Linked DNA regions of Homo sapiens. The protein of the gene in region 1 interacts with the protein of each later gene in a pairwise test. Each region holds a gene or a part of one and is shown on either strand. Other genes may lie near its edges.

Region 1 (2,906 bases):
TAAAGATGAAGGTGATGGAAAAAGTATTGCTGATCTTAGTTTTTAAAAATTTACCTTTGGAGAAAAATCAAAACTCTTATAGAGATATCTCTTTTTTTCTTTTTGTAGTTCAAGTACCCTTACAAGACTGATGGAATTACAGTTGTATAAATATGGACTACTGAAGAATCTGAAGTATTGTATTATTTGACTTTATTTTAGGCCTCTAGTAAAGACTTAAATGTTTTTTAAAAAAAGCACAAGGCACAGAGATTAGAGCAGCTGTAAGAACACATCTACTTTATGCAATGGCATTAGACATGTAAGTCAGATGTCATGTCAAAATTAGTACGAGCCAAATTCTTTGTTAAAAAACCCTATGTATAGTGACACTGATAGTTAAAAGATGTTTTATTATATTTTCAATAACTACCACTAACAAATTTTTAACTTTTCATATGCATATTCTGATATGTGGTCTTTTAGGAAAAGTATGGTTAATAGTTGATTTTTCAAAGGAAATTTTAAAATTCTTACGTTCTGTTTAATGTTTTTGCTATTTAGTTAAATACATTGAAGGGAAATACCCGTTCTTTTCCCCTTTTATGCACACAACAGAAACACGCGTTGTCATGCCTCAAACTATTTTTTATTTGCAACTACATGATTTCACACAATTCTCTTAAACAACGACATAAAATAGATTTCCTTGTATATAAATAACTTACATACGCTCCATAAAGTAAATTCTCAAAGGTGCTAGAACAAATCGTCCACTTCTACAGTGTTCTCGTATCCAACAGAGTTGATGCACAATATATAAATACTCAAGTCCAATATTAAAAACTTAGGCACTTGACTAACTTTAATAAAATTTCTCAAACTATATCAATATCTAAAGTGCATATATTTTTTAAGAAAGATTATTCTCAATAACTTCTATAAAAATAAGTTTGATGGTTTGGCCCATCTAACTTCACTACTATTAGTAAGAACTTTTAACTTTTAATGTGTAGTAAGGTTTATTCTACCTTTTTCTCAACATGACACCAACACAATCAAAAACGAAGTTAGTGAGGTGCTAACATGTGAGGATTAATCCAGTGATTCCGGTCACAATGCATTCCAGGAGGAGGTACCCATGTCACTGGAATTGGGCGATATGGTTTATTTTTTCTTCCCTGATTTGGATAACCAAATGGAACAGGAGGAGGATAGTGATTCTGATGGCCATTCCCTCGATACATTCCTGGCTTTTTTCTGGGCAAAGGGTGCCACATTGGAAGAGGTGGAAATATAAGTTCTGAAATCTGTAGGGAAGAGAACACATTAAGTTAATTCAAAGGAAAAAATCATCATCTATGTTCCAGATTTCTCATTAAAGACAAACAAAGTTACCCACAACACTGAGATCACATCTAAGTGACACTCCTATTGTCAGGTCTAAATACATTAAAAACCTCATGTGTAATAGGCGTATAATGTATAACAGGTGACCAATGTTTTCTGAATGCATAAAGAAATGAATAAACTCAAACACAGTACTTCCTAAACAACTTCAACCAAAAAAGACCAAAACATGGAACGAATGGAAGCTTGTAAGGACATGCTTGTTTTAGTCCAGTGGTTTCCACAGCTGGCTAAGCCAGGAGTCACTTGGAGGCTTTTAAATACAAAACATTGGAGCTGGAGGCCATTATCCTTAGCAAACTAATGCAGAAACAGAAAATCAACTACCGCATGTTCTCACTTATAAGTGGGAGGTAATGATAAGAACTTATGAACACAAAGAAGGAAACAATAGACATTGGAGTCTATTTGAGAGGGGAGGGTGGGAGAAGGAAAAGGAGCAGAAAAGATAACTATTGAGTACTGGGCTTCACACCTGGGTGATGAAATAATATGTACAACAAATCCCTGTGACACATGTTTACCTATGGAACAAACCTTCATGTGTATCCCTAAACCTAAAATAAAAGTTAAAAAAAAAAAAAGATAAACACAAAACATTCATGCCCTAGCACTGGTCTAATGAACAATAATAAAATCTCAGAACTAGAGGCCAGGTATTTTGACAAAGCTCCCCAGGTGATTCTGATGTAGCCAGTTTAGTATTTGGGAATAATAGTTTTAGATTATCCCATAAATCAGGTGGGCACGTCAGGTTCACATTATTCAAAGTGTTCTTATCAGCAGTTTTAGACCTCTCTGCTTAGAATGCCACATCTTCTTAAATTTCTGATTTTGCTGATCTCAAATCTGCATTTCTAAGTATAGGATTTTTTTAAAAAAATTATATTGTGTATAGCATTGCATTCATGATAGAAAATTCAAAAAGTACAAAAGGGTAAACTGTGGAAAGTCCCTCTTTTTTTATCTCACCCTTTATCTTCTTTATCTTAACCCTTCTCAAGGGCAACTGACACCAAACATTTTTTTAAATATACCTTTAGAGATATTCTATCCACATCTATACACACTTTAAAAATATATATGTATACTGGATTGTATCCTGCTTTTTACATTTCATAATAATACATTTCAGAAACATATCAATACATAAAGATCCTTCTCATTTTTCTACAGCTAGATAGTATAGCAATGACTATAAATTAAATGGTCTCCTAGTAATGGGACATTGAGGCTGTTTTCAGTCTCTTACTATTAAAAAAACAATGATACACAACGAACAAAACAATGCTGCAATGAATAACAGCACAGTTAATTCTAATAGAAGGCTTTATAGGCATATTTTCGTTTCTTTTGGTAAATATTTAATACTTAGGAGTGGAACTGCTGAGTAATAGAAGAGTTACACATTTAACGTTAAAAAGTTCCAGTTTTCCAAAGTAGTGGTACTATTTTACATGACTAGCAAGTTTATGAATCTAGCTGCTTCACATCCTTGCTAACATTTCATGCTGTCA
Region 2 (3,657 bases), on another chromosome or scaffold:
GTTTACAGTGACCCTAAATAAGGTTGAAGAGTTAGGCTGTATCCTTTATGTTTACAGAAAGGTACAGGGGTGGGAGAAAGAATGCTGGAAAGGGCAGCCCTGAAGTGTTTTATCCTAAGACCATCTAAACGTGAAGGAAGTCCATTCCAGCTAGTGAGGAGGTGCCTAACACAGTGGTTTCAAGCCTGACTGACCACAGAGTTACCTTGGTAGCATATTAAAGTCCTCATTCCTACATCTCACCCTAGAGCACCTGTTTTCAACCTTAGATGCACAGTAGAATTAACTGAGAAACTTTTAAAGCCATCATTATCCAGGCCCAAATGCAGTATTGTTAAATCAGAATTTCTGGGGATGTTGCTCAGGCATCTTTTTTAAATTTAATTCCCTGGGTATACCAAGATTGAAACTTGACACTCTATATACTGAATCAAAAGCTCCATGGGCAAGGTGTAGGAATCTGTATTTTTTAATTACCATCTCCCAAATCTACTTAGTTTGTGGAGCAGCGTTTGAAATGGACTTGTGACAGGTATGGATGAAGTGAACAAGAGACAGTAGAAATCAGGCGTGGTGGGGAATTGAAAGAAATGGCAGTGGCAGTGGTTCCAGTTAGAGATTCTCAAGAGGCTCAAGATGGAGCCCTCAGAGACTTTCAGTGTTTGGGTCTTGGCCTTGCTGCTGTGGAGAGGTGATGCAAATCCATGGAGTCAAACAGAATAAAGAATTTGAAGTAATGTATGGATATGAAGGGCTGATGATGTGAATATTAAATTTACTGAGGTTGATGGATTGGAGTGGAATATTATAAATTAGTTACTGATGTATTACACATGTTTAAAAAAGTGGTGAATGAGAAAGAAGAAAATGCTTAGAGGTGGGGCAGAAATAACAGTGGCAGCGAGGATGAATTTGACTGGCTACTTCTACACCTAATCAGGTGAACAGAAAAGAGAGGTTCTACATGGGGTAGAACCCTCTGGATAGGGTACCAGTACATTGGGTTCAAGAAAGAGCTAGATTTGACTTAGGTCAGAGAGGTGAAGAGAAATGGGAGGAATTTAGTTGAGAATTTTAAAGGGATGTTAGCCTATAATGGAAGACAAGGGGAAGAGTTTGAGGGTGAGCATAAGGTGTGTCGAGAGAATTTGATGGAAAGTTTAGTAACAAGAATGAGAAGTTGGCTTATCAGTTGTGTATAAATGGGGTTGATGGAGTCCCTGGGACAAAATGTAACTACCAATTATTGAACATCTGTTATGTTTAGCTTTGTGCTAGGTGCTACAAAAAATGCAAAAAGACAAGGTTTTAAAAAATGGTCTCTGCCTCAGGGTATGCAGGGTTAACACATGAAAAGCAAAGCAATATGTAAAAACCACAATGAGCCATAGAAACAATTTGTACTATCAGAGATGAGAGAAAGGAGATCACTGTGTGCAGAACTGTGAAGAAAGGCCTTGAAGTAAAGGTAATTATTTAAGCTGGCTGGCCATTGAAAAATGATAGGATTTGGATAGGCAGAAGAAAGTGGGCAAAGTAATCCAGTGACGAAAACAGCATGAGCAAGGCTTAAAAGGAAAAATTAGTGAGTAATAAAGCGAGCCCAGTGGAAGCATGCTGGGAACTTGTGGGAGGTGAGAAAGATTGCATGGGGGCTGGAGCCAGATCACTAGGCAGAAAAGCTTAGACAGTTTTTTTTTCCCCCTGCGGTTAGTGGGAAGCTATTGCAATTTCTGAAACAGAGGAACAACATAATGAAATCAGTGGTAGTGTATAGTTAAACTAGAGGAGGGAGAAAGTGAAGAAAAGAGCTTTGTAGCTCATGCCTGAGGCAATGAGTGCATCCACTAAGGTGGTGGCCACAGGACAGAGTGTAAGGGATGGGAGCATACACACCATGTGGGACCTAACTAGACAGCAGAAATGAAAGAGAAGAAAGATTAATAAAGGAAAAGGACTCAGGTTTCCAGATGAGGTCAATAGCATTCCAAATTAGAGAAAGTGTGTGTGTGTGTGTGTGTGTGTGTGTGTGTGTGTGTACTTAACAACAATATGCCCAGCTAGGTATTTGGAACAATCTTGTATGAAAAATGTTGTGCTCTTTGTTCATTATGTTCTAAACAAGAGGTGAGATGGGAAAGAATGAATGCTATGGTGATGATGTTTAAGTAATTGAATAAACTACAGATATTACAAATATACAAAATAAGTGTTTATAACAATAATAGCTACTTATTGAGTGCCTACTCTGTGCTAAGCATTTGCCATGTATTCTTTTATTTAGTTAAATAATGCAACCAAAAGCAATCACAACAACCCTGTGAGGAAGATATTTTTCCACTTCACAGAAAAAGAATCTGAGAGTCAGGTTATGTGTACCTTGCTAAGGAGTAAAATGGCTAGTCAGGGACAGTGGTTGCTTTATAACAGAGATGTTTCCGACTCATGTTCTTTGCCCAATTCTGAACACTCGACATTTGCGGTCATAGGTAATAGGGACCATGTGGTACAAAGAAGCTGCACCTATGGCAGTATTTCTAGTTTGAAAAAGAGCATGTTGTCCAGTAACAAATTTGTTCAGATATTTGTTACTAGAGATAGAACAATCATGGGAAAGATATGTTCTAGGATATCTATTTGCTTTTTTATGGTATGAATAGATCATTAAATTATATGTAAAATCAATCTGATTGAAGCAAAATAGTCCAAGAGACTTAATACATAAAAAGGGAGGGCTATGGCTTTATAAATACATACCCAGCATGTCTCTAAGTTTGAGTGGGTTGTAAAGTCTCTTTGTCAACTTTTTTTTTAAACCACAAAGCCGTAAAGTCTCTTTGTCAACTTTTTTTTTTAAACCACAAAGCCATAATGTAGTGCTTGCTTATTTTCCCCTTCATGAATAACCCATTAGGACACAAATAATTTATAACTATATTTAACAATTGGAGAAAAGCGGTCATTATAAATTGTGAGCCAGAGAACCTCCAAAAAAGTCAAGTACGATTCTGCTTTGCTGTTTATAACTCTCCATCTATAAAATGGCAAAAATAATAATTGAACCTACTGCATAAGGTAGAAATGAAGTCTAAATTAACACACATAAAACATTTAGAAAAAAACCTTGTACAAAGCACTCAGTGTTAGATGAGATTATTAAAGTCGTGTGTCACATAACAATGTTCTAGTCAATGACAGATCACATAATCTGAAGGCAGTCTAATGCCTTTTCTGTTTAGATATGTTTAGATGCATACTTAGTGTTACAGTTGTCTACAGTATTCAGCATGGTAACATGCTCTATAGGTGTGTGTATCATGTGAGCAATAGGCTATATCATATAACCTAGGTGTGTAGTAAGCTGTACTATCTAGATTTGTATAAGTACACTCTGTGATGTTTGCACAGCTACAAAGTTGCCTAATGAAGCATTTCTCAGAAAATATCCTCATTGTTAAGTGACACATGATTGTGTTTATAAAGCAACATCTGTAGCTGAAAAGCTGTTTGTAAGCCAGCCAGCCCTTTCTCCTCTACTCCTGTCCTGTGGATTTGGTACTTTCCTTAACAGCCTTCTATATCAAGCCTCAGGCCCTGTATGTATTGCCTTTGCCTTTATAAACCTCCACCGTCCCCCTCACCTCCGAGTTATTATCC

The links. Proteins that work in one complex are often made in the same cells at the same time.
Region 2: the proteins of BTG3 (region 1) and HECTD2 interact in a two-hybrid assay, tested with the Homo sapiens proteins (one large-scale study listed by BioGRID and IntAct).

Annotation. Positions count from the first base shown.
Region 1 is NC_000021.9:17,593,044-17,595,949, forward strand, and holds the end of BTG3 (protein BTG3), read right to left. Parts: intron 1,290-2,906; coding exon 1,050-1,289; 3' UTR 610-1,049; downstream 1-609. UniProt on the Homo sapiens protein: Overexpression impairs serum-induced cell cycle progression from the G0/G1 to S phase.
Region 2 is NC_000010.11:91,413,193-91,416,849, forward strand, and holds part of HECTD2 (probable E3 ubiquitin-protein ligase HECTD2), read left to right. Parts: intron 1-3,657.